Linked DNA regions of Homo sapiens. Changing the gene in region 1 together with any one later gene gives a genetic interaction. Each region holds a gene or a part of one and is shown on either strand. Other genes may lie near its edges.

Evidence for each region.
Region 2: of CDK6 (region 1) and ATG7, changing one suppresses a phenotype caused by changing the other (phenotypic suppression), as found in Homo sapiens cells (one large-scale study listed by BioGRID).

What each region holds. Positions count from the first base shown.
Region 1 is NC_000007.14:92,616,574-92,620,073, forward strand, and holds part of CDK6 (cyclin-dependent kinase 6), read right to left. Parts: intron 1,635-3,500; coding exon 1,499-1,634; intron 1-1,498. UniProt on the Homo sapiens protein: Serine/threonine-protein kinase involved in the control of the cell cycle and differentiation; promotes G1/S transition. Phosphorylates pRB/RB1 and NPM1.
Region 2 is NC_000003.12:11,310,397-11,313,896, reverse strand, and holds part of ATG7 (ubiquitin-like modifier-activating enzyme ATG7), read right to left. Parts: intron 594-3,500; coding exon 477-593; intron 1-476. UniProt on the Homo sapiens protein: E1-like activating enzyme involved in the 2 ubiquitin-like systems required for cytoplasm to vacuole transport (Cvt) and autophagy.

The sequences.
Region 1 (3,500 bases):
GGCTGAATTCCCAAAGGACCGGAAAGCAGGGGCAAAATTCCTGAGCCTGAGTTCTCTTTTCCCAGAGCCCAAGAAGGAGAAAATTAGGTAGTGGCATTTAATCTCCAGGACATAGGAAAGAAGAGAAAAGAGCTGTGGGAATACATTCACAATACAGAGACATGTCTCTAGAGGATTATGTGAGAGGAAGCCCTTTCCTCACAGCTACACTGATGGCTTAAAGCTGGGAAGAGGGTGGAGAGAAGGAGAACACCTTAGCCAAATGTGGGGGTGTGGGAGAATCTCACGTTGGAAGTCTTAATACATTTTGTCCTATAGAAATATGGTTAAAAAAAAGGTGTTTAAGTTCTATTATTGCTCTACTTCAGGAACAAGGTTGCCAGGTTGAGGGTTAATTAAAAAACTTTGTGTTAATAATATTGTTTCTGCAAGAAAATTTAGTTTAATTGCCAAATAGTTTACTTATAAAATGAGCTTTTGGAATCACAACTTAGTCAAGAGTTGGATACTATGGTAGATTGGATAACTTTTAGTACATATTCCCTCTTTTCTCTCCCCTCTCACCATAGGGGGAGCATTCTTTCCTCCATTCAAGTTGGCCTTAGGCATGGAACTTGCTTTGGCCAATGGAACATGGGCAGAGTGGCGGGTACTTCTTCCAAGTATGGACCTTCAGGGGCATTGCATATTTCTGCTTGCCCTTCTGGAGCATCGATACCTTCTATCATGAGAAAAACATGCCCCAGGGAGCTGCTGCCTCTCTGGCATGGGCCCCAGCATGAGACACATGGAGAAGACCTGTGCTTCACCCACGGGCAGAAGCAGATATCAAAGGCTGTTAATTCAGGAGGTAAAGCAGACACTCATTACTCACTGGGTTTCAGACATCAAGAACAGCCCAACAGGTACACTTTTCTACCTATTGTTCTGGCCTCCAAGTATAGGAAATTATGTATATGGTTGAGCATTAAGAGTCTCAGAGCACAGAAGTCCTTATTTTCAGTGAGGTATTTTATATGTCCCTGGCACACTAAATACTTATTAAATAAATCAGCAACTAGAAGAAGTATTGCTATATAGTTCTTTTGGAAAAACATCTCCCCAAAGTTGTGAATGTTTAAGAAAAGGCACGTTAAAATGACAAACAAATTACTTAAAGTAGCATGAAACTGTAAGAAAGGAAACATAATATTTACTTCTAAAGAAACATATGTCAAAGTGAATCGAGAGGCTTCTAAACCTGCATTGAAATAAACATTCAAAGATGGCAGATTTAAAAAAATGTGGATCAGAAAGACATTCCAGAATCAAAAGCCACCAGCTGCTACAAGTGTGAAAATGAAACCTCTGGAGGGACTGTTGCCTCCTGCTCCATGTGGCTGTGGCATGTGATGCCTATAGCAGCTACTGAACTGATATTTGTGCCCACCACCCAGTCTGGGTAGAGCAGGTGTCTCACTGGCACAGTGCAGACGAGCTTGACATCAGAAAAACTTACCAGAAGTAGGTCTTTGCCTAGTTCATCGATATCTGTTACAAACTTCTCAATTGGTTGGGCAGATTTTGAATGAAAAGCCTGCCTGGGAAGGGCAACATCTCTAGGCCAGTCTTCTTCTCCTGGGAGTCCAATCACGCTACAAAAGAACCACACATGGACATAAGCATTAGCTACTATGCAGAAGCTGTTTTCTCATCAATTTCCAGAGAAAGGCAAAATCTAAGGGGGAGACATGGGGGGCAGAGTCCCAGGAGACCTTCACTTTATCACTGGCAGGGTCTCTGTTTATCTCTGTCCTACTGCAATATGGTGGCCATGGGGGAGAGGGTAATCTCACAGAAGAATTGTAAAATTCAGTGGGAGGAGATAAGAGATTGCTCTGGTAGCAGACACTAAATGTAAGGGATGATGTAGAAATAGAAAATATATTACCAGGCAGTAAGCTCTGACTTAGTGACAAAGCAGGACTTATTGTATTCAGAGGAGACCCATACTGGTACATATCTTCCTTTATGTCCAAGAATGCTTTTTGTGTTTTGATCGAACACCCCAGTATTGACATGATTTTATGATGCTCATCCAACATGGTTTATTAACATATCAATTTGGTTGCATTTTTGGTTAAAGAGCAATTCCCTACATATTAAATATATACATTAGAATCAGAAGGAAAAATGAGGCTAAAACGTGCTAGTCCTGCATTATACAAACATGATTTTATAAAAGGAAGTCTGTGGTATTCCAAAGTGAGCAAACAGTAAATTAAAAGACTATTATTTATATTTCCCCTGAAAACCATTCTGGGATCAGAAATGTGGAAAGAACAGCAAGTGATAAGCACAGGCTTCGGAAATAGGCAGATTTGGGTTCAAATCCTGCACCTGCCACTTACTGGCAGGTAAGGACAAATTACTTAACATCTATGACCCTTAGTGTCTTTATGTATACAATGATAATAACTTACAGTTGTAATGAGGATCAGTTATACTTTATTTGAATTTATAGTAATATATAAATTTATAATTTAAAGTACAAAGCACAGCACCTGATATACATCACACACAGTCAATTATCAATCAATACACTGCCTACTATTATTATAATTAGAAAATGTTATTAATACAAGATGCATAGGAAATACATCACTACCACACTTAAAATATGAACTGCTTGTATCTATGTATAACTTAAGATTCTTTAAAAAATTAATGGGTCAATGGACTTACATAACTTATACATTGTATAGATATTATTTATAGTTTACATATAGGTCGTAAGTAGGTTTGAACAGAGAAAATCAGAGGATGCAGGGACTTCTTTCTCACACAGACTGTATAACTCTGAACCAAAAATAAAATCATAGTTTAGTGGACGGGGTACATAGCTATTCAAATACTGGAACAAATAATTTTAACTACAGTTAGAAATTGTGCTGGCCCACATTAGGGTCTTCTGCTTGGCCTCTACTTGTTGGGACTAAGGCCCAGGAAGAGGTGTTCTTATGAATGTACTTCCAGATTTCAGGAAGATGTGGTACAGGTCTCAAGATCTGTAGCACTTCATTTCCCCTTCCCTCACCTACACGGAGCCCAGGCCATAGACTTCAGCTGGGAAGATAACCCTGTCATCATGGCTTCTCTGCCTGGGTGTCTGGGGAAGACACTGTAATTCGGCCTCTATCAGGCATACTGAGAGAGCTACATTATTGAGGCAAAGACAGATTCATGGACATATTTACTAGAAGCAATAAATAGAAATGACAATGAGCAATATATAGATTTGTTCAATAGTACAGCCTACAATAGAAGTAAAAAGAAAAAAACCAAAAATACCACTATTAATTATGAAAAGAAATGCACGTGTAAGTGTCTGGATACAATGGGACAGGGCAGAGGAGGGAATGAAAAATGCTTGTTAGAGAGCTTTAAAAATTTCCTTTCATTCCTTTTTAGTTGTCAGGTCTATGTGTATCAATATTTTTGTGTATATTCACCAGTCAGCT
Region 2 (3,500 bases), on another chromosome or scaffold:
CAGGCAGGGTGGCTCATGCCTGTAATCCCAGCACTTTGGGAGGCTGAGGTGGACAGATTGCTTGAGCCCAGGTGTTGAAGACCAGCCTGGCCAACATGGCAAAACCCCATATCTATTAAAAGACAAACATTAGCCAGGTGTGATGGGATGCCTGTAGTCCCAGGTGCTCAGGAGGCTGAGATGAGAGGATCACCTGAGCCTGAGAAGTTGAAGCTACAGTGAGCAGTGATCGTGCCACTGCACTCCAGCCTGCGTAATGGGGGTGAGACCCAGTCTCAAAACATATATAAATATATATACAAAAAAATGACTTTACAAACATTTTCTAAATAAGTCTGCTCCTAGTACCACCTTTGGAGGATTTCAGTTACCACGTCTTCATCCAGAGAAGTGCCTGTTTGTCTTTGGAAAGAACTACATAACTACTCTTGCACATTCAACCCAATTTTATGTGCATTTTGGTTATTTGTTGATACCTGTTTTAGTGAAAACCTTTGATCCAAACCCACTGGCCCCTGAATGAGAGGTAAACTCTCTGGAAGACAGAGGGCAGGATAGCAAAACCAATAGTAGAAGTGGTACTTCTTTAGATCCTAGAAAAAAAAGTATAAATAAGTTATTAGAATAGCACCATTAACTTAAGGTGAAATGCATCTATTAATGTAGCTTCTCAAGGCCAATTAAGATAGCAAAGCTATGCAAACAAAGTCTGTCCAGCTTATCAAATATCCTCATCCCCAACAGAACTCATGATCAAATAAAGGACTTTTGTATTCCCAAAATAGTCTCATATACCACCACTAATAATATGATGACAAACATAATATACTTTATTGACCACTTGCTAACAGAAAATGTGCAATATGTAATTGATATTATCATCATCATCCTTTAACCTACAAAACCCCCCTGGGAGGTATTTACTATTATCCCATTTTATAAACAGAAAACTGAATCTTACAAAGGGGTAAAAAACCTAAACAACAACAAAAAAGATGGCAAGGGGCAGAGAAGAGATCAGAACTCTGCTTCCAAAACTTAAGCTTTTTTCCACTGACCATAGATACTTAATGTACTATCTACAGAAGCACAACTTCCAAACAGTTACCATTCTCTTCACAATCAAATAAATTACATGTTATTAAGGAAGCTGTGCTATTCACATATGTATGCATGCCTGAAATAATACAATATTGCTTTTGTAAATGGCTTAGTGGATTTAAGTCAACAACTATCAAGCCCTTGCTATGTACAAGGCAAAACATAAGACACTGACAATAAGATGAATAAACCCCAGTCCCAGACACCAGGCAGCTCACTTTGTGGACAGAGCAGAGATAAAGCGAGTGCATGATTAGAGCCATGGAGAGGCTCTAAGTAGTAAGCTGGATGGGTGAATAGAAGAGGTTACATCTTCACGGGTATATCTGACCGATCCCCCACCAGGGTAGGAGATCCAGGGGAAAGGATTTGTGAGGCTGTCTTTGACACTGTTCCCACTCACGCTAATGGCTCTTGCTTCAGAATTCTTACAGCTTTTGGGGCCTTAATTAAATTCATGGTAGCATTCCAGACATATGTGGGTATTTGGCAGCTTGCCTACAAGCCTGTGACCACTGAATATGAATGCAGTTTATGTAGCTAATTAATATTTCTTCTTGAATCTTGCTAAGAATTAAAATTGGATGGTTGTTAGATGACTTTTTATTGAGATATAATTTACGTTCCATAAAATTCACCATGTTAAAAAGTATACAATTTAGTGGTTTCTTTTTAGTATAGTGATATGGTTGTACCATCATCACTATTAATTCCAGAATATTTTCATCACTCCAAAAAGAAATCTCATACATATTAGCAGAGACTCCCCATTCCCCCTCTTCTCATCCCCTGGCAACCACTAATCTATTTTCTGTCTCTGTGGATTTTCCTAGTCTGGACTTTTCATATAAATGAAATCATACTAGATGAGTTTTAAAATGTAAATGTATATGTAATCATGTGTACAGATGAGAAAGTCTAATAATTGTAATCTCTGCGGTCTCTAATTCTGCTATTCATTGATCAACTAAGAAAAAATTCCCTCTTCACAATGGCAAAATGAACTGCAAAGCTGAAATTAATGAACTGTCTAGTCCTATGAGTCCTAAAAAACAGCAGAAGGAAAGCAAAAACACCTCCAGAGATTATTTTCTCTTCTTTGTACTTAAATGATTTGTCATAACCGATATTTAGTAAAAGGTTAAACAATTCAAGATGAAGAAACTCACAAAATCTTTTTTTTTTTTTTTTTGGAGACAGTCTTGCTCTGTCACACAGGCTGGAGTGCAACGGCACGACGATCTCAGCTCACTGCAACCTCCACCTCCCAGGTTCAAGCAATTCTTCTGCCTCAGCCTCCCGAGTAGTTGGGACTACAGGCTGCCATGCACAGCTAATTTTTTTTTTTAATTTTAGTAGATACGGGGTTTAACTATGTTGCCCAAGCTGGTCTCAAACTCCTGAGCTCAGGCAATCCGCCTACCTCGGCCTCCCAAATCGCTAGAATTACAGGCATGAACCACTGCACCCGGCCGGACCTCACGAATTCTAAGAAACTTTATCAGGTCATTTTCAAAAGTCAAAAAGCTTGCATTTCTTAGGATTCTTTTCAGGATAGAAATGACCTCCATTAAATTAAACATAAAGTCCTTGGTGTCTGAAGATTTTAAAAAGTAGATACTTACAATTTTTTTTAAGTCAGGCTAAGAATGCTCAGTAAACAAGGCAGCAAGACCAACACACATACTGACTCTAGGCAAACCTTAAAACTTTAAGTAAGAGCTAATGTTATTTTTCTCATTAAATGCAAACTGTCAGCATGTTCTACTATGAGAATTCTTGGTACAGAAAGCGTACTGACGTTCAAGTAACTAGAAATCTTTAACTAGCAATGCTTACAATTTATCCCAGTAAAGAGCCTACAGGCTGCATGCGGTGGCTCATGCCTGTAATCCCAGCACTTTGGGAGGCCGAGGCGGGCGGATCACGAGGTCAGGAGATCAAGACCATCCTGGCTAACACGGTGAAACCCCCTCTCTACTAAAAATACAAAAAATTAGCCGGGTGTGGTGGTGGGTGCCTGTAGTCCCGGCTACTCAGGAGGCTGAGGCAGGAGAATGGCATGAACCTGGGAGGCAGAGCTTGCAGTGAGCCGACATCGCACCATTGCACTCCAGCCTGGGTGACAGAGCGAGACTCCGTCTCAAAAAAAAAAAAAAAACTACAGAATTACCCAAACGTATAGACAGATTATTAATGCCAAACTGAGCCAAGTAATCAGACAAAAAATTTAAACATTTTTCTCTCTCCTCCACTATTACATAGAAAGCATTATAACTTGTTAGAAAATGTGTTCCTTGTAGATAGCCACCCACTGGCCTTGTTTGATTGCTATCATACCCTCCTTTGCCTTGGGCAATAAATCAGAGGCCTCCCCTGCATCTAGGAATCTAGGAGGA